Linked DNA regions of Homo sapiens: region 2 is linked to region 1. The links come from fine-mapping of genetic effects on gene expression. Tissue or cell type: thyroid. Region 1 holds a variant in brackets; the other region holds the start of a gene. All regions are shown on one strand. Distances are from middle to middle.

The links. PIP is the estimated chance that this variant, and not a neighbour inherited with it, causes the effect.
Region 2: DLGAP2 starts here. The variant in region 1 is fine-mapped to the expression of DLGAP2 in thyroid (GTEx, PIP above 0.99).

The regions. Positions count from the first base shown.
Region 1 is chr8:1,217,761-1,228,067 of GRCh38, reverse strand. All of the region lies in intron 2 of DLGAP2 (DLG associated protein 2), which reads right to left. Among named protein-coding and RNA genes, the nearest start is that of DLGAP2-AS1, 400 kb to the left of the region's middle. The variant T/C (reference allele first, on the strand shown) is at 5,513.
Region 2 is chr8:733,943-742,885 of GRCh38, reverse strand. It overlaps DLGAP2 (DLG associated protein 2), which reads right to left and starts at 5,258. Exons shown (of 15, transcript NM_001346810.2): 1 at 5,061-5,258. The coding sequence starts at 5,078. It overlaps LOC124902044 (a long non-coding RNA gene), which reads left to right and starts at 5,856. Exons shown (of 2, transcript XR_007061156.1): 1 at 5,856-6,029; 2 at 6,669-6,852. LOC401442 (a long non-coding RNA gene) reads right to left here and starts at 4,338. Exons shown (of 1, transcript NR_134292.1): 1 at 2,512-4,338.

The DNA of each region.
Region 1 (10,307 bases):
CAGTGTGTGATGTTCCCCTTCCTGTGTCCAAGTGTTATTGTGTATATTTAAGGTATATAACATGTCATAACATGCATATAAATAGTAAAACGGTTACTATAGTAAAGCAAAATAACATATCCATCATCTCACATAGTTACCCATTTTGTGTGTGTATAGCAAGAGCAGCTAAGACGTACTAATTTAGCAATAAATAATTCCAAATACAGTTCAATTTTATTAGCTATAATTCTCCTGTTGTATGATAGATCTCCAGACTTGTTCATCTTATCTGCTCCTTTGTACCCTCTCACCTACATTTCTCCTTTTCCTCTCTCTACCCCATCCCTGATAACTAGTTTTATCTCTTTATATAATTCCACATATAAGTGACATCATGTAATATTTTTCTTCCTGTGTCTGCCTTATTTCATTTAGCATAACGGCCTCCAGGTCCATCCGCATTGTCACAGATGGCAATGCTTGAGAATTGCTTGAACCTGGGAGGTGGAGTTTGCAGTGAGCCAGGATTGTGCCACTGCACTCCAGTCTGGGCGACAGAGCAGAACTCCATCAAAAAAAAAAAAGAAAAGAAAAGAAGCAAATCTCAACTGTAGGCTGCCTGCAAGAGATTCATCTCACATGTGAAGACAGCCACAGGCTCAAAGTAAATGTACGGAGAAAGATCTATCAATCAAATGGAAAACAAACAAGTGGAAGAGTTGCTATTCTTATTTCAGAAAAAAAAAATAAAAACAGACTTTAAACCAACAATGATCGAAAAGGAGAAAAAGAAAGGCATTACATAAGGATCTTATTTTTATAAGGCTGAATAATATCCCATTCTGTGTGTGTGTATAAAACAAATATATATATAACACTCTTAAAAATGAATGGATAATATATATCTATACTATATATATATATATATATATCTCACAGTTTCCTTACCCATTCATTTGTTGAAGGACACTCAGGTCATTTCTGTATCTCGGCTATTGTGAAATACGCTGCAATGAACAGGTGAACAGGGAGTGCAGATATATTTCCGAGGTGGTGATTTTGTTCCCTTTGGGTACAATCAGAAGACAGGTTGCAGGGTCATAGGGTAATTCTATTTTTACTTTCCTTAGGAACGTCGATACTGTTTTCCATAATTGTTGCACAAATCTACTTTCCTGCTGAAGTGTGGGGGTTCCCTTTTCTCTGCACTAACATTTGTTATCTCCTCTCTCTTTTCATAGCTATGCTATTTGGTGGGCATGAGGTGGTATCTCAGTGATTTTGATTTGCATTTCCCTGAGGATTACTGATGTTTACTGAGGATTACACAAACGTTCAACAGTTGTGTGAAAAGCGCTCAACATCACTAATCCTCAGGGAAATGCAAATCAAAACCATGTTGGTCATTTTTATATCATCTTCTGAGAATATCTACTCAGGTCCTTTGCCCATATTTCATTTATTTTTTCAGTTCCAGGATACATGTACACGACATTCAGGTTTGTTACATAGGGAAATGTGTGCCATGGTGGTTTGCTGCACCCATCAACCTTGGTATTAAGCCCCACATGCATTAGCTATTTATCCTGATGCTCTCCCTCCCCCTTGCCCCCTGACAGGCCCCTGTGTGTGTTGTTCTCCTCCCTCCTGTGTCCATACCTTCTCATTGTTCAGCTCCCACTTATAAGTGAGAACATGTAGTGTTTTGTTTTCTTTTCCTGTGTTAGTTTGCTGAGGATAATGGCTTCCAGCTTCATCTATGCGCCTGCAAAGGACATGGTCCCATTCCTTTTCATGGCTGCATAGTATTCCATGGTGCACCGCATTTTTTTTATCCAGTCTATCATTGATGGACATTTGCGTTGATTCTGTGTCTTTGCTCTTGTGAACAGTGCTTCACTGAACATACGTGCGCATGCATCTTTATAACAGAATGCCCATGGTTTAAACTGAGCTATTTATTTTTCTGCTATTTAATTATATAAGTTCTTTATAAATTTTGGATATTACCCCCTTATTAGATATATGACTCAGCAATTCCTCTTCCATATATACCATATATATGCATATATACCTATGAGAAATGAAATCACCACCTTGTAAAAATATCTTTCTAAAATATTAAAAATGAAAAGGAAAAATTATATATATATTTACAGCATACAGCATGATGTTTTGATATATGCATACATTACGGAATGGCTAAATCAACCTGCTTAAACTTTTTTGTGGTGTGAACTGAAAATTTACTCCTTAGCAATTTTGATTTATACAATATATTATAAACTGCATTCACCACAATACACAATAGATGTCTTGAACTTAGTCCTTCAGTCTAACTGAGATGTTCTGTCCTTGGACCAAGAGCTCCCCAGTATTTCTTCTTATTTTTGGTAGTATGTACCTAGTAGAAATTTGTTCATTTCACCTAAGATACCAAATTTATTGGCTTAAAAGTGTTCATGATACTTGCATATGATTTTAATTTTTAAAGCTGAGGTATAATTAAAAACATAAAATTAACCATTTTGACGGGATCCATGTAGTGGCATTTAATACATTCACGTGTTGTTCAACCAGCTCTGTCCAGTTTCAAGACGTTTTTCATCAGTCCAAAAGGAAACCCCACCCTAGTAAGTGACCGTTCCCCATTCTCCTCTCTGTTCTGCCGCTGGCAATTACCTCGGTGTTCTGTATCTGTGGATTTACCAGTTATGGATATTTCATTGATGTGAAATCACAGAATATGTGACATTTTTTGTCTGGCTTCTTTCACTGAGCATAAGGTTTCTGAGGTCCTTCCTCCGCTGTAACATCTACCAATCCCTCACTCGTGTTCATAACTGAGAAATGTTCCGTTGTCTGTACATATGGCATGTGCTTATCCATCCACCCCTGTGGACATCCAGGTGGTTCCCCTTCGGCTATCATGCAAGCACTGCTGTGAGCATGGACGCTCCCGCACTGGTTTGGGCACCTATTTCCAGCTCTTTTGGGCACACAGGCAGGATGGCATTCTTTTCCATTTTAAGTTTTTGTGGATAGTGAAAACTTAAACTCTTTTCCACAATGGCTAAATAACTTTACATTTCCAACAGCAACATATGAGGATTTCAGTTTGTCCATATCCTTGCTAACTCTTGTCACTTTGCTTCCGATTAATTTTGTCACCAACAGCCATCCTAGCAGATGTGGGGGAGCAGTTCACTGCGGTTTTGACTCGCATCTCCCCAGGGACTCATAGTTTTAAGCATCTTATCACGTGCTTGTTGACCATTTGTATATCTTCCTTGGAGAATGTCCATCCAGTCCCCTTGCTCATTTTAAAATTAGGCTTTTGTGTTGTTGAATTTTAACAGTTCTTCAACTATTATAGACACTATAATTCATTTTATTCTTGTAAGGTTAGTAGTAATCTCTCTTTTCATTCTGGATTTTAGTAATTTCAGTCATCTCTTTTTTTCTCCTTATGAGTTAATAAAAGGCTTAACAATTTTGTTGAGTTTTTCAAATAATAAAGTTACAGTTTCATTGATTTTTTTCTATCATTTTTTGTATTCTATATTTTATTAATTTCTGGTCTACTCTTTCACACAATAGTTTTGAGATGAAATAAACACCTGAATGTGAAAGTACCTTTAAAAATGAACTTGTACATAAATATGTATTAATTCAATAATTATTTAAGATGCTTTCTATCTGCCAAGCAGGCTCTGTTCTTGGTGCTTGGGATATGACAGTGAAAATTTTTCCTACTTGACGGTAGTTACAAATACGCATGTCAATTATGTCTCTTATATGAGAGAACTGTGCCTTACTCATCCTGATATTCCCTCTTCCTGACCCACATTAAATGTGCCACGAATGCCAGGTAAATGCTAAAATAAGAGATATTTTCATTATCTGTCATTTTCTTGCAATTCCTCTTAGACAATGGCTCCTTTGAGAGGAGAAAACCTATCTTAATCATCCATGTGGTTTAAATTCTGTCTGCCACGATGCCACAAACATATCGTACGCTCAAAGAATATCGTTTTGATTCATTGCTTAACTTGAATCTGCCTTCATATTAATCCACATCAAGGGGAAACAATGAGAAGTCAAAATTAATAAGGTAAAATAATTAAGGTTGAGAAAATATCCTTATTGTTTTTAACAACAAGGAGTATGTCTTCTGTTTTTCTCCATCTCACACATTGTTTGCTAGAGAACAGAACATATAGATGCTCAATAAATATACACATATAGAGCATATGGGTGCTTAATAAATCTCTGCCTACTATTCAATTGTTTTTATCCTTGAGATTCCGACAGGTTGATTATCCCACTTCCCTTAGGGAAAACCAAACAGTCATCACAGAACCCTCCATAATGGCTGCAGGGGCCCACAGTGGCAGACAAGTCTTGCTCTTCCCTTTCAGAAATCTTGCTGTGGGAACACAAATCAGTGCGTATGTCTCTAGTGTTTAAGGCACTTACAATTCTTAATGTCATATTTTTAAAAAAGAGAAAGTGAAGATCAACAACCCTGGTCAAACCATTCTTTCAAGCAGCCCTTCTTATACAATGATATTTTTCTTTAATATTTTAAACTTTTAGTCATCTTGTAGAAGAAAGAGAAATGTCATCCACCCACTAATTGTTTCAAAGTACTTCTTCTCCCCACCCTGAACAGTAGTCACTCTTTAAAAAATGCAGCACCGCGGAGAAGAGCCAAGATGGCTGGCTCCATGCACACGGGAAGCGCTTCTCACAGAGACCAGCCCATGGCATAGACCTGCACACTGTGAACAGATCCTTGGAAAAAAGGCTTTCAAAGTGGACAGTGAGGACACAGATCCCTGGCTGAAAGGGGAGGAAGGTGGGAACCCTGGACAGGGTTGCTGGGCACCAGGACTTGTTATTGGCCTTGAGTGACTCCTAGGGGAGGACTAAGGGAAACAGGCATGGAGTGGCCCACTCTTCACATGGATCTCCCCGATCCCACCTATGGGAGACTCAATGACCCCCACAGACCTCTGAGCTGGCAGGGAGAAGTGCCCAAGGAGTTGGCAGACAGAACTCCAGAAGATTTGGTGTGGGAACGGCTGCAGTGGAGCTCAGCCATGGGCACCCGTCCCCCAAGGCTTGCCACACTCCTCTAGGTGGCTTTAGGCTTTGTTAGCTGTGGGACCAGGAGAGAGCACGGCTGGCCGGCTCCTGGGATGCAGCCAGTCTGATCTGAACGCCCCTCTGACTGCTGGCCTCTCCTGGGCTCCCCGCCTGGATGCACCCACTTGCAGCACAGCAACAGCTGCCAAGGCTCTCATCAGTGGCCACAGCCCCAGCCCTCTCACCAGCAGAGCCCGTCTGACCATCAGAGCACTTCTGCAGATAAACCCCACCAGTGCACACCCACCCACAGCTTTCCCCTGCCAGCATGCACCCACCAGCAGCCTCCCCCCACCGTGTACACCCACCTGCAGCCTTCCCCCGCCAGCATGCACCTACCTGTAGACTCCCCCTGCTATCTTGCCAGCACATACATGCA[T/C]GTGCACTTACGTACTTACCATCACTCTGCAAGAGCACTTTGGCTAGCAGCCCCCACTGGAGTGTCGTTACCAGTGGACTGAGAACACCTTGGCCCCTCCAGCACAGCAGGTACTTAAACTTGAGGGGCCAGAGAACAAAGCCATGGGACTGGTCCTAGCCCCCCAGGGTTAGAGCATGCAGCCCCTGGGTGCTGAGCTGAGCCTTTATCCCTTGAAATCTTCCAGAAATAAAGTGAACTGACTGAGCCCAGCTTATACCACAGTCAAACTCGCAAGGGCATCAAAGAATATAAAATCAAAAAGCCCCATCCAAAAGATAGCGATGTCAAAGATTAAAGTAACATCAGCCCACACAGATGAGAAAGAACCAGCACAACAACTCTGGTAACTCTAAAAGCCAGTGTGTCTTCTTACAACCAAATGACTGCTCTAGCTCCCCGGCAATGTTTCTTCACCAGATTGAAATGGCTGAAACAACAGACATGGAATTCAGAATCTGGATGGCACAGAAGCTCAAGATTCAGAATGAGGTTGAAACCTAATCCAAGGAAAACAGTAAAATGGTCCAACAGTTGAACGACAACAATTTTCAGACAGAACCAAACAGAACTGGAAATAAAAAATTCACCACAGGAATTTCGGAATGCAATTAGAAGCATTAATAACAGAATAGACCAAGCTGAGGAAAGAATCTCTGAGCTCAAAGACCACTCCTTCAATTCAATACAGGCACACAAAAATAAAGGAAGAAAAGCACTTAAAAATGAAGAAAACCTCTGAGAAATATGTGAGAATGTAAAGAGAGCAAACCTATGACTCGCTAACATTGCTGAAAGAGGTGGAGTGACAGCAAGCAACTCGGAAAATATATTTGAGAATGCTGTCCATGAAAATTTCCTCAACATTGCCAGAGAGGTTGATATGAAAATTCAGGAAATTCAGAGAACCCCTGAGAGATAATATACAAGACGACAATCCCCAGGACACATAGTCATCAGGTTCTCCAAAGTCAGCATGAAAAAAAAATGCTAAATGCAGCTAGAGAGGAGGCAGGTCATGTACCAAGGGAACCCCATCAGGCTAACAGTGGACCTTTCAGCAGACATCTTACAAGCCAGAAGAGATTAAGAAACTATATTCAGCATCCGTAAAGAAAAGAAATTCCAACCAAGAATTTTACATGCAGCCAAACTATGCTTCATAAGTAAAGGAGAAAAATAAATCCTTTTCAGACAAACAAATGCTAAGATAATTCATTAGCACCAGACCTGCCTTCGAAGAGGTCCTAAAGGGACTGGTAGACATGGACATGAAAGACCCTTATCTGCCACCACAAAAACACACATAAGTACATAGTCCACTGACACTAAAAAACAACTATATAACCGAGTATACATAACGATCAGCTAAGAACATGACATAATTGAATCTTCACATACCAATATTAACCTTCAATATAAACAGGCTAAACACCCCCAGTTAAAAGGCAAAGAGTGGAAAGCTGAAGAAACAAGCAAGACTCAACTGTACGCTGTCTTCAAGAGACTCATCTCACATGTGAAGACACCCATAGGCTCAAAGTAAATGTATGGAGAAAGATCTATCAAGCAAATGGAAAACAAACAAGAGGAAGAGCTGCTATTCTTATTTCAGAAAAAAAGACTTTAAACCAACAATGATCAAAAAGGACAAAAAAGGCATTACATAATGATAAAAGGTTCAATTCAACAAGAAGGCTTAACAAAACTAAATATATAGGCACCCAATGCTAGAGTACCCAGATTCATAAAAGAATTTCTCAGAGGCCTATGAAAAGACTTTGATAACCACACAGTAATAGTGGGAGATTTTAACATCTCACTGACAGTGTTACACAGATAATTGAGGTAGAAAACTAACAAAGATATTTGGGACCTAAACTTCACACTTGACCAAATAGACCTAATAGATATCTACAGAATACTCTCCCCAACAACAACAGAATATATAGTCTCATCTCCACACGGCACATATTCCAAGATTGATAACATCCTTGGCCATACAGCCATTCTCAACAAATTGAAATAAACCCAAATCATACCAAGCACACTCTTGGACCACAGCACAATAAAAACAGAGATCAACACCAAGAACATTGCTCAAAATCATACAATATCATGGAAATTAAACAGCTTCCTCTTGAATTACTTTTGGGTAAAGAATGAAGGTAGAAATCCAAACATTATTTGAAACTAATGAAAACAAATATACAACATGCCACAATCTTTGGGTCACAGGTAAAGCAGTGTTAAGAGGAAAGTTTCTAGCACTAAATGATTACATCAAGAAGTTAGAAAGATTTCAAATTAATAAGCTAACACCACACCTAAAGAAACTAGAAAACCAAGAGCAAACCTAACCCAAAGGTAGAAGAAAACAAATTGCCTAAATCAGAACTGAACTGAACAAAATTCAGACACAAAAATCCATTCAAAACATCAACAAAACCATAAGTTGGTTTTTTTGAAAGAAGAAATAATACTGATAGACCACTAGCTAGATTAAGTTTAAACAGAGAGAAGATCCAAATAAACACAATCAGAAATGACAAAGGGGATATTACTGTTGATTCCACAGAAATACAAAAAGCTCCCAGAGACTATTACTAACACCACTATGCACACAAACTAAAAAACCTAGAAAAAAAAAGAATAAATTCCAGGAAGCATACCATCTCCCAAGATTGAACCAGGAAGAAACTGAAATCCTGAACAGACCAATAATGAGTTCTAAAATTGATTCTGTAATAAGCTACCAACAAGAAAAAGCCCTGGGACATACGGATTCACAGCCAAATTCTACCAGACATAAAAGAAAGAGCTGGTACAAAACCAACAAAACTATTCCAAAAAATCAAGGAGGAGGGACTTCTCCCTAACTCATTCTATGAGGTCAGCATCATTCTGATACCAAAACCTGGCAGAGATACAAAGAAAAAAGAAAACTTGTGCTAAGTATCCTGATAAACATAGACACAAAAATCCTCAGCAAAATACTAACAAATCAAATCCAGCAGCACATTAAGATGCTAATCCACCACGGTCAGGCAGGCAATATTGATTCCTGGATGCAAGTTTGGTTTAACAAACATAAATAAATGTGATTCATCACATAATCATAACTAAAAATAAAAACTACATGATCATCTTAATAGATGCAGAAAAGGCTTTCGATAGAATTCAACATCCTTTCATGTTAAAAACCCTCACAAACTAGTCATCAGAGGAACTTATCTCAAAATAAGAGCCATCTATGACAAAACCACAGCCAACATCATATTGAATGGGTAAAAGCTGGAGGCATTTCCCTTGAGAACCAGAACAAAACAAGAATGCCCTCTCACACTACTTCTATTCAACATAGTACTGGAAGTCCTTGCCAGAGCAGTCAGGCAAGAGAAACAAATAGAAAGCATTCAGATAGAAAGAGAAGAAGTCAAACTACCTGTCTTTAGACTATATGATTCTATACCTAGAAAACCCCGCAGTTTCTGCCCAAAGGCTCCTAAAACTGATAAACTTCAGTAAAGTCTCAGGATATAAACTCAGTGTACAAAAATTAATAGCATTTCTATTCACCAATAACATCCAAGCTGAGAACCCAATCCAGACCACAACCCCATTCACAATAGTCACAAAATGAATAAAATTCCTAGGAATACAGCTAACCAGGTGGTGAAAGATCTCTACAATGAGAATTACAAAATTCTGAAAGATATTAGAGATGAAACAAGTCAATGGAAAAACATTCCAAGCTCATAGTTATGAAGAATCAATATTGTAAAATGGCCATACTAATCAAAGCAATTTACAGATTCAATGCTATTCCTATCAAACTACCAACATGATTTTCCATATAATTAGAACTATTCTAAAATATATATTAAAACAAAAAAGAGCCTGAATAGCCACAAAAGTCCAAAGCAAAAAGAGCAAAGGTGGAGGCATCACATTACTCAACTTCAAACTATACTATAAAACTACAGTAACCAAAACAACATGGTACTGGTAAAAAAACAAAACTAAACAGAATAAAACAACAACAACAACAACAACAAAACCCAGACACATAGACCAATGGAACGGGATAGAGAACCCCCAAATAAAGCGGCACACCTACAACCAACTGATCTTTGACAAAGTTGACAATAACAAGCAACTGGAGAATGGATTTGCTATTCAATAAACGGTGCTGGAATAGCTGGCTACCCATATGCAGAAGATTGAAACTGGGCCACTTCCTTTTACCATATACAATAATTAACTCAAGATGGATCAAAGCCTTAAAGGCAAAACCTAAAACTATAAAAAATCTGGAAGAGAACCTAGAAAATACCATTCTGAACATAGTGTTGGCAAACATTGTATGATGCCTCTGAAAGCAATTTCTACAAAAACAAAAATTGACAAGTGGGACCTAATTAAAGAGCTTCTGCATAGAAAAAGAAACTATCAACAGAGCAAACAGACAACTTATAGAATGGGAGAAAATATCTGCAAATCTACCCTTCTGACAAAGGTCTAATACCTAGCATCAACAAAGAACTTAAATCAACAAGCAAAAAACAACCCCATTAAAAAATGGGCAAAGGACATGGACACTTCTCAAAAGAAGACATACATGCAAGCAACAAGCATATTTTAAAAATCCTAAACATCACTACTCATTATAGAAATGCATATCAAAATCACAATGAGATACCCTCTCACACCAGTCAGAATGGCTATTATTAATAGCAGATGTTGTCAAGGTTGC
Region 2 (8,943 bases), 480 kb after region 1:
CAAGTTAATATTGCATTGGCCCCACTCTTAGTGATGAGAAAACTGAAATACGGTGAGGTCAAATAAAGAGCCAAATGCAGCTGGGAAAAGTGACTCACTCCTGTAATCCCAGCACTTGAGGAGGCCAGGGCAGGAGGATTCCTTAAGGACAGGAATCTAAGGCCAGCCTGGGCAACACTGCAAGACCTCCGTCTCTACCAAAAAAAAAAAAAGTAAAAATTAGTTGGGTGCGGTGACATACACCAACTACTAGACAGGCTGAGGTGGGAGGATCACTCGTGCCCAGGAGGTCAAGACTGCAGTTAGCTATGATCATGCCAGTGCACTCCCGCCTGGGTGACAGAGGGAGACCCTGTCTCTAAAAAGCCACTTGCAATGCTGTGCAAAAGTCACAGGACAAACATTCGTTACACACAAAAGGATGTTTTTCAATACCGCCTAACTTAAAATACATACTCTATGGACCCTTGAGATCATTCCCATTTTTCTTCTTTTGTACAGAGTATGAAACATTTTAAAGACAACGATCAGTCAGATTCACAGGTTACTTTAAAAATTTTTAACACAAGTTTACAGATGGGCTATTTCCAAATGTTTATTCATTGTTTAAAATGGTTGATTTAAATTTTTCTCTTTTTTTCCTGCCGATACACACGATGTACCATATAAGAAACAGTACCCGAAGATGAATAAGCCTTTCCCTGCAACAAGAGGTTTAATGTGGAAATGTCTGAAGAAACTAAAAGCCCATACATCCCATTTGCTTGTCAGGGACAGAAAACTCAGTTCAAAGAAACAATCTCCTGGTTTATGTAACTGAAAGTCACGGGGTAATGATGGTTCAGGCATAACTTAGTTCAGAGCTTCCAACAGCATCCTCAGGACCAAGCTCTCTGCATAACAGCCGCCCTTCTCCTCCACAGACAGATGAGGAAGGTGTCATTTCCAGACAGGCCATCCCTGCAAGGCTGTGCACTGATGCCACAACTGCAGGCCTTACACCTTTCCCGCTGTTTTTCCTAAAGCTTTCCTCTCCTTGAAAGTTCCCGCTCTTCACTCATCCAATTGCTCTTGAGAGGGAGTTAGGGCTCCGGCCAGTCAGGAGCCACCTCTGACGGGAAGTAGGGTCCGCCAAGCCAACCCCATGAGGTGGCAGGTGTTCCCTAAGGGGAGCTGGCTGCTGCCTGGAAAGGGAAGCGTACACTGAACTGCAAATACACTGGAGTCTGCAGTAACGGGTCTAGAAAGCTCAACTCCTGAAGGCCCGCCAATAAATACAGACAGGACACTTCCAGAACTAAGGCAACTGACATCCCACATGAAGACACTGCCATCAAGTCAGGAGAGGTGCACCTGCAGCGGACACCCATCACCGGGATGTCAGAACACCCAGGCCCCTCTCCTGGAGCTAAAGTTAAGGGACTGCATGTCAAGGCCCATGACCTGAGGACTGGGAGAAGATTTTCATAGGCAGATGAAGTCAGTGCACAGAAGAATGACATGAAAAAAGAAAAACAGAGCTTTACAAATGAGCTCCTACTGCCTTTGCTGAGGAGATTAATTTGTTACTGCTGTTAAGCCTTGGAAGGGAAAGGTGGCTACCAGTAGATGCAAGATTTAAACTAGAGTTTGCACACCCTACGACCCCATGCCTGGTCAATGCCAAAGCCCATCTGCTTAACTTCCCTAGAAATTAAAGTCTTTTGTCATGAGCACACGTGAAATCACTATGCTCAGTTTTTGTACGCACAAGTACCCAGGAAACAACAAAACATATTGAAGAAGTTAGTGGCACTAGAAAGCCTCGTATGATGAAAACTAGTTGGTAAAACTACGGTTGATTAAGAATAATTTTTAACTGCATAGAAAGTGTGCCTACTAACTTCCTGTATGGCAGCCTGTAATTCTTTTATAACCAACATGATGGCAATGCTCTAAATATGACTCCCATCTGGCCAAAATGATGAATCATAGTTATTTTTATTGTATCCAATGAATGACCATGGAGCATCCATCCTGAGGGTCAATAAATAGAATATTTAATCAACTTCATTTTAAAATCTATAATCAAAGTATACATCATTCAACTCCTTGGATAACTGAGGAGTCATGAAGCTTTTCCTCAAATACAGTTATATAATAAAAAAATTATAGCATTTCTTCAATTTCAACATTATGGAAGATGATATCTTCAAAATAAAACAAAACAAAATCCTCTCACCCTTAAAAAGATATTAGAGCACTTTAGTTTCAGAATTAGTTGGGTTCTGGGTACACAGAATCCAATGTAATTTAAATTCCACGAAGCCTATTTTTGCTTTTAATATTTAATTTGGAATTTCTACCAATTTCAAAACTGAAATAAGTAGACACAAATAAGAGAAGCAATAGATTGCCACAGAAGGGCATGTATGTCACTGGGGAGAAATAATGTCATGTGATCTGAATTCTACAAAACTAAAAATCGAATTAACCCATTTAAATCACAAGTAACAAAAGGCATACAAAAAGTTGGTAAATAAATACATGTTTATTTCTGTCTCAAGCTGTACCACTTTGGACAATCATAAGTGCAAAGTTCTTTCGAAGAATAACAAATAGACATTGAATACTATGAAAAGTTGACTTAGAATGCTTATCTGAGAAAACATCTTCGTGCTGAGAAAGCTTTACTTTTAATTACTTCGTTCCTTTGAATTATTTGACGTAGTACTCATTTTGCTTACAACTCTTACCCTTTAACCTGAAATTATAATATACAGATTTGACGCGGTAGATCAACAGAGGAAGCCATTCTGTGCCTCTCCACTGCTTACCCAAGAACACGGGCGATCACCAAGGAGTGACAGTGAAGGGGCAGGAATGGCGCACAGAGGCAGGATGCGTCCCAGGTCATCACTGAGAGCAGATCCCACGCGCCCGAGCTGCCGCGGTGAAGATGCCTCAGGTGACCCGAGACAGAACCGAGGACAGGGCCGGCTCTGTGTCACCTCGGTCCCTCCACGGCCTCCCCGCCCAGATGTGCTTGGACAGAGTATTGCCTACAGCCTGCTCCACATGCTGCCAGATGTAGGGGATAAAATATTCTAATGTGTTCTCTTCCAAGCAATGAAAAAGTCACACCATCCAGAAGGAAATGGTACGCACACTCTACAATTACTATTGGAGCCAAATCTGTGAGTCACCCAGCTGCCGGCACAAGACAATTTGGCTACTGGAAAATCCTGATTAATGACATTTTTTTAAACCCAGAGTAACAACTTGACCTGCCAAGAATTACCATTTTTTCATCATTTCGCCATTTTTGGCCTTGGTTATCTATTACCTTTCTCAGAGAAAAGGAAGTAAAATGAAAATGGTGTAAGGTGCGTTCACCTCAGGCCAAAATGCGCCTTCCAAGGTGCGCTGGGGCCGGGGTTTAGCGCAGCTTCGCGACCCGGGGGAAGGCTCCTTGGAGAGCCTCCTGGACTCCCTCGGGCTACGCCGAGGTACCGGGTTATTTCCCAACTGCAAGGACAATTAATTCACGGGCTGTTGATGAGATTCCTCCTGACAGGGCGGATTGTCGGGCTCCGCCAGGCTCTGGGACCGGGTCTCTGTCCGCCGCGCCCCAGGCCCGACCTCTCCGGGGGGTACCCCCCTTCGCGTCGCCGGAGCTGCCTCCAGCCTCGAGTCCGGGAAGACGGGAGAAGCGGCGGCGCTTTGGAGAATATTTACAGTTCCCAAACCCCCCACAGCCCGGGCTGGCCGAGTTCATCCACACGAAGGATAAATTCACTGCTGATCGCTTTATCTTTAATCGATAGAAGACCGGGGCCGCCGACAAGTCACGAATTTCCAATTCCAGGCCGTGGCCGGGATCGCCATTCACCGGCGGCGGCGGCGGCGGCGTCGCGCAGGGGCTGGAAGGACCCGGGCTCCAAGCGCGCAGGGCCGGGACCGGGGGCCGCGAGTTTCCGACGCGCATCGCAGACCCGCCGCGCACCCTCGCCCCCGCGTCCGCTCTCCACCTGCGAACCTACGCTGTCCGGGGGCTCCGCCTTCTCGCCGGCGCCCACCTCGCCCAGCTATCTCTCCTCCAGGCCCCTCCCCGGGTTCCCAGGTCCAGCCTGCTCCGAAGCCTCGGGCACCGCACACGCCGCGCGCTGAGGGAGGGCCGGGCGGGGAGAGGCGTCCAGTCCAGCCCAGCCCAGCCCAGCCCAGCCCAGCCCCACCTGGGCGCGCAGGCAGAGGAGCCCGCGTCCGCCGCCCCCCAGCCCTCCGCGCAGGGCTGTAATAATTACATCCTCATTATTTCTCCTGCAATCGTTAGCGAAGGAGCCGGAGACAGCAACAGCCGCTGCCGGGGGAGGCTTAGTTACAAAACCCTGCGCTGGGTAGCGCCTCGCTTAGCAACCACCCCTAAAAAAGACCCCGAGCTCCTCGCTCGCACTTGGAGAGCCGGGCGGCGGCCACCCCCTCGCTGCGCGCACCCTCCACTCCGCCTGGTCTCGGCAGCCGCTGCTGCCCGGCACAAGGGCCCCATCCTGGTCGCCCCCGCCCCCGCGAGCCCCCGTGCGCGCAGCCCAGCCCGGCACCCTTCATTCATTCCCAGTCCCCGTCGGCGTTTCCACCCGGGCTTGGGGGGAGGGGGATGCAGTCTGCTGCCCGCCGCCCCCACTCGCTCGCAGCTGCCCCACCGGAGCTAGGCGCGTAGCCCCTGGCGCGCCGGCACCCCCCAGGCTTTGCCCCCTCCACCCCGGGCAGGCAGAGCGGAGAATTTCACACCTCCGCGGCCCCGTGCGCTCCCGCACCCCCGGAGCCCAGGGTCCCGGCACCCCCGAGCGCGGCCAGGGATGCGCGGAGCCCGGCGAGGAGCGCAACGCGCGACCCCCGAGCACAGGCTGTCCCTGGGGTCCCCAGCGCTCCGGCCCCGGCGGGCGGCACGACCCCCGCTCGCCCCCGCCCCCAACCCTGACGCCCTCGGGGCGTCCCCGCGGGTCCGACACACCGCGCCCTCCCCGCCTCGACGGCTCTCGGAGCCCCGCGCCCGGCTCCCGGCAGCCCCCGGCGGCTCGCACCTTCCTCAGCGCGGACATCCTCGGACGCTCCGGGCTCAGCAGGTGCGGGGCGACATGGCGAAGCGGCCCCTCCTCAGACCGACGGCTCCCGGGGCTCGCGGGTTGGGGTCAGTACGTCCGTCCGCGGTCCGTCCGTCCGTTCGCCGCCGCAGGCGCCGCGCGCTCAGACCGCGCTCGAGCCCGGCGCACGGTCGGTCTTCACGGCCGGCGCCTGCGCACTCGGCGCCCAGGGAGGCACCGGCGCACTGGGGGGCGGCCGGCGCGCGGCTGCATCTGGGGAAGGGCCCGGCTTGGGGAGCGCGCGGGCAGCCCGGCTCCAACTGTTGCGCGGGGCGCGCGGGTCACCCGGGGACTGTGCCGGGCTCCCGGCGGGAAAGCAGCGGCCTCCACCGCGGCGCGCGCAGGCGACGCTCACCGCGCCCGAAAGTTAGCGGGGGACCCGGTCACACCCGTCGCCCCCGGGCAGGGTCAGCCTTTCTGGACCGCTGTTAGAGACGCGCCGGCGCGTTTGTGCGCGGGACTCGCGCTCGGGTTCGAGTCGGCTCGGCGCCCAGGGGGGCTCGCGGGGCAGAGGGGACGCGGGGCGAGGGAGGCGCGGGCGCTTGCGAGGGTCTCACTGCGAGGTGCGGCCGCCGCTTGGGTGCTGGAGGCAGAACCTCCCCCGGTTTCCACTGGCGGGCTACGCTGAGGAAGGTGTGCGGCGGCGGCTTCGCGGGGACCCACCGGGGGGCGCCCCGAGAACCTGGGTCCGGACGCAAGGAGCGCCCTCGGAGGGGGCCCGCCGCCTGGGTTTGCTGTGAGTGGCGTATGGACGACAGAGCCGAGGAAAAGGGAAAATCGATCCGGAGAAGTGGTGTTGACAACCACAGCAGCCGGGAAGATCAGCCACCCTGGCCACGTGTGGACGGACCCTCGCCAGGATCATGGGTTTTCCCTTCCGGGATCGGAACGCGGGAGCTAGACGCGCTGGTATGGGGATCCCTGGGCGGTCACCGACCCTGGGCAAGTCTCTCAGCCCCAGTTTAACATAAACGCAGAAATGGATTTCTGCTTTCCACCTGCATGGCTACGGCATTTAAATGAGGTAAAAGATGCGAAAACAAACCGCATAGAAAGACGGATGGGAGTTAGAATGAAATCAGGTCATCCAAAATATTTGGAATGGACAAACCAATCTTTTCCAGAAATTCCAAGATCTTTAAACAAAAAACAGGCTCTGTAAGAATTCCCCGTATAATTGATCACCAAAATATTCATCAGTTGCAGTTTATTTTCAAGGCAGAGTGCTAAACGACGAGGGGGTAGAAAGGTGAATGGGAGAAAGAAGTCCGGCCGCTGTCCATTTCTTCTAAATGTTTCCCGAATCTATCAGTGGTCTCCACTGTCAAAAAAAAAAAAAAAAAAGGTGCATTCAGCGCCCAAACCTCAACTAGGGAGAGATTCCAGGCCAATTTATTTTCATTTCACAATTTACTTTCCCTTTGCTTTCCTCCCCTGCATTTCGTCCCCATCCCTTCACGTTTTTTAAAAATATATATATATATTATTTCATGCAACCGCAACAAGAAAATCACACAAATGTACTGACGGCCTCTCCTGTGTTCTCAGCGTGTGAGCAGCACAGAAAACCACGGTTGCCGCCCCATGAAGCCTTCAGTCTAGAGAGGGATCCGCCCAGAAGTTACCCAAGGAACAGACAATTACAAGTTATAATTCTCTGAAGGAAACATATGGAGTGTTATTGGTGAATGTGAAAAGGGCAACAAATACAGTTTGTGACATCAGAAAAGAACTTTTTGAGGACGTCGTTATTAAATCTCCCCCTGGGTTCTCCCACAAGCAGGTTTTGAGGTGTGGATTTGGGTGCAGGTAGTTCATTTGGGAGATCGATCCCAGGAAACTAGAGAGAGGAAGTAGGGAGAGAGAGGCAGGGCAGGAGAGGACGTCCCAGAGGCTGCGGTGACGCTGGGCTGCTCCTGTGGCCACCGGGGCCCCGTCCTGCTGGGGTGCTCTAACAGGAGCAGCTTGGAGTGCACGTCAGCTTAGGAAGGCTGGACAGCTTTTCAGCTTCTAGGTCCCAGTGACTGAGGGCTGCTCCTCACCCACACACCCCACTCCCCAAGTTGAGCACCTCCCAAAGCTTCAAAGAAAGTCCAGAGGCCAACCAGCAGGGGAGTGCACGGGGACCTGAGAGCACATTGAGGGTGGCATCAGAGGTGGCCTCTGCCATGGCCCTGGGAACAGGATTTAGGGAGATAAGAGCAGGCCTGAAGACCTTGGGAGATAGAAGGACTTGATGCCTTTTTTTTTTTTTTTTTGACGGAGTCTCACTCTGTCACTAGGCTGGAGTGCAGTGGCACTATCTCAGGTCACTGAAACCTCTGACTCCCTGGTTCAAGCGATTCTCCTGCCTCAACCTCCCGAGTAGCTGGATTACAGGTGCACACCACCATGCCCTGCTATTATTATTATTATTATTATTATTATTATTATTATCATTATTATTATTATTATTTGTATTTGTATTTTTAGTAGAGGCGGGGTTTCACCATGTTGGCCAGGATGGTCTCGATCTCCTGACCTCGTGATCCACCCGCCTCGGCCTCGCAAAGTGCTGGGAGTACAGGCGTGAGCCACTGTACCTGGCCTTTTTTCTTTTCTAAGACAGGGTCTCACTCCTGTTGTCCAGGCTTGAGTACAGTGGTGCTGTCACGGCTCACTGCAGCCTCAACTTCCCTGACTCAGGTGATTCTCCCACCTCAGCTTTCTGAGTAGCTGAGACTACAGGTATGTGCCACCATGCCTGGCTAACTTTTTGTATTTTTAGTAGACACAGGGGCTTGTTATGTTGCCCAGACTAATCTCCAACTCCCATGCTCAAGCGATCCTCCTGCCTCCGCCTCCCAAAGTGCTAAGATGACAGGCATGAGCCACCATGCCTGGCCACATTTTCGTTTAACTGAACAGTCAGAATAACTGCAACTGAGGGAGAAAAGGACCACATGATTGTGACGGGAGAAAAACTCAGGGGTCTTTCAGGACATTTTAAGGGCTTTGATTTGTATCCTCTATACAATGAATTATGATGTAGGATTTTGAGCAAGGCAGAGATTTTCTTCATAGACAATCCTGTCATTTGCAGAGAAAACTTCTATTTCTCCCTTCCCAATCTGTATACCTTGTATTTCCTTTTCTTGTCTCATTGCATTGGCCAGGAATTGCAGTGTAACAGTGAGATGCAGTGGCAAGAGGGGGGGGCCTTGCCTTCTTCCTGATCTTAGTGGGAAAGGCTTCTAGTTTCTCACCATTTAGTATGCTGTTAGCTCTAGGGTTTTTGTAGGTGTCCCTTATCAAACTGAAGAAGTTACCCTCTAATCATAGTTGGCTGAGGGTGTTTCGGTTTTAAATCATGAATGGGTGTTGGATTTTGTCAAATGCTTTGTCTGCATCTAATGATGTGATTGTGTGGTTTTTCTTCCCTATCCTGTTGCTGGATGGTCCACCTTCAGTGATTTTTGAATGGCAGTGAGGTTTTAAAATGACCATTTTGGCTGCTATAAGAAGAAATGTCGGTAGGATGGGAGTGAGGAACAAGAGTGGAATTGAGATCATTTTAAAAATGCTCGGAGAAATCCTGGGATTTCAGAGATCAACTTAAAAAAGGCTGGAGAAATCCTAGTGACAAATGATGAAAACACAAACTCAGCAGTGGAAGTAAGACACGTTGCAAGTAGAATGCGCTTGATGTGATTTTTCTGGATGGGTTATTCAGGAAGAGAGGAAGAGGAGAGTCACCAATGACCCCCAAGTTTGGCCCAGCAATTGGATGACACTTCTGGGAGGCCTTAGTGTGTTACATGCTTACTGAGAACTGTGTGTTGGA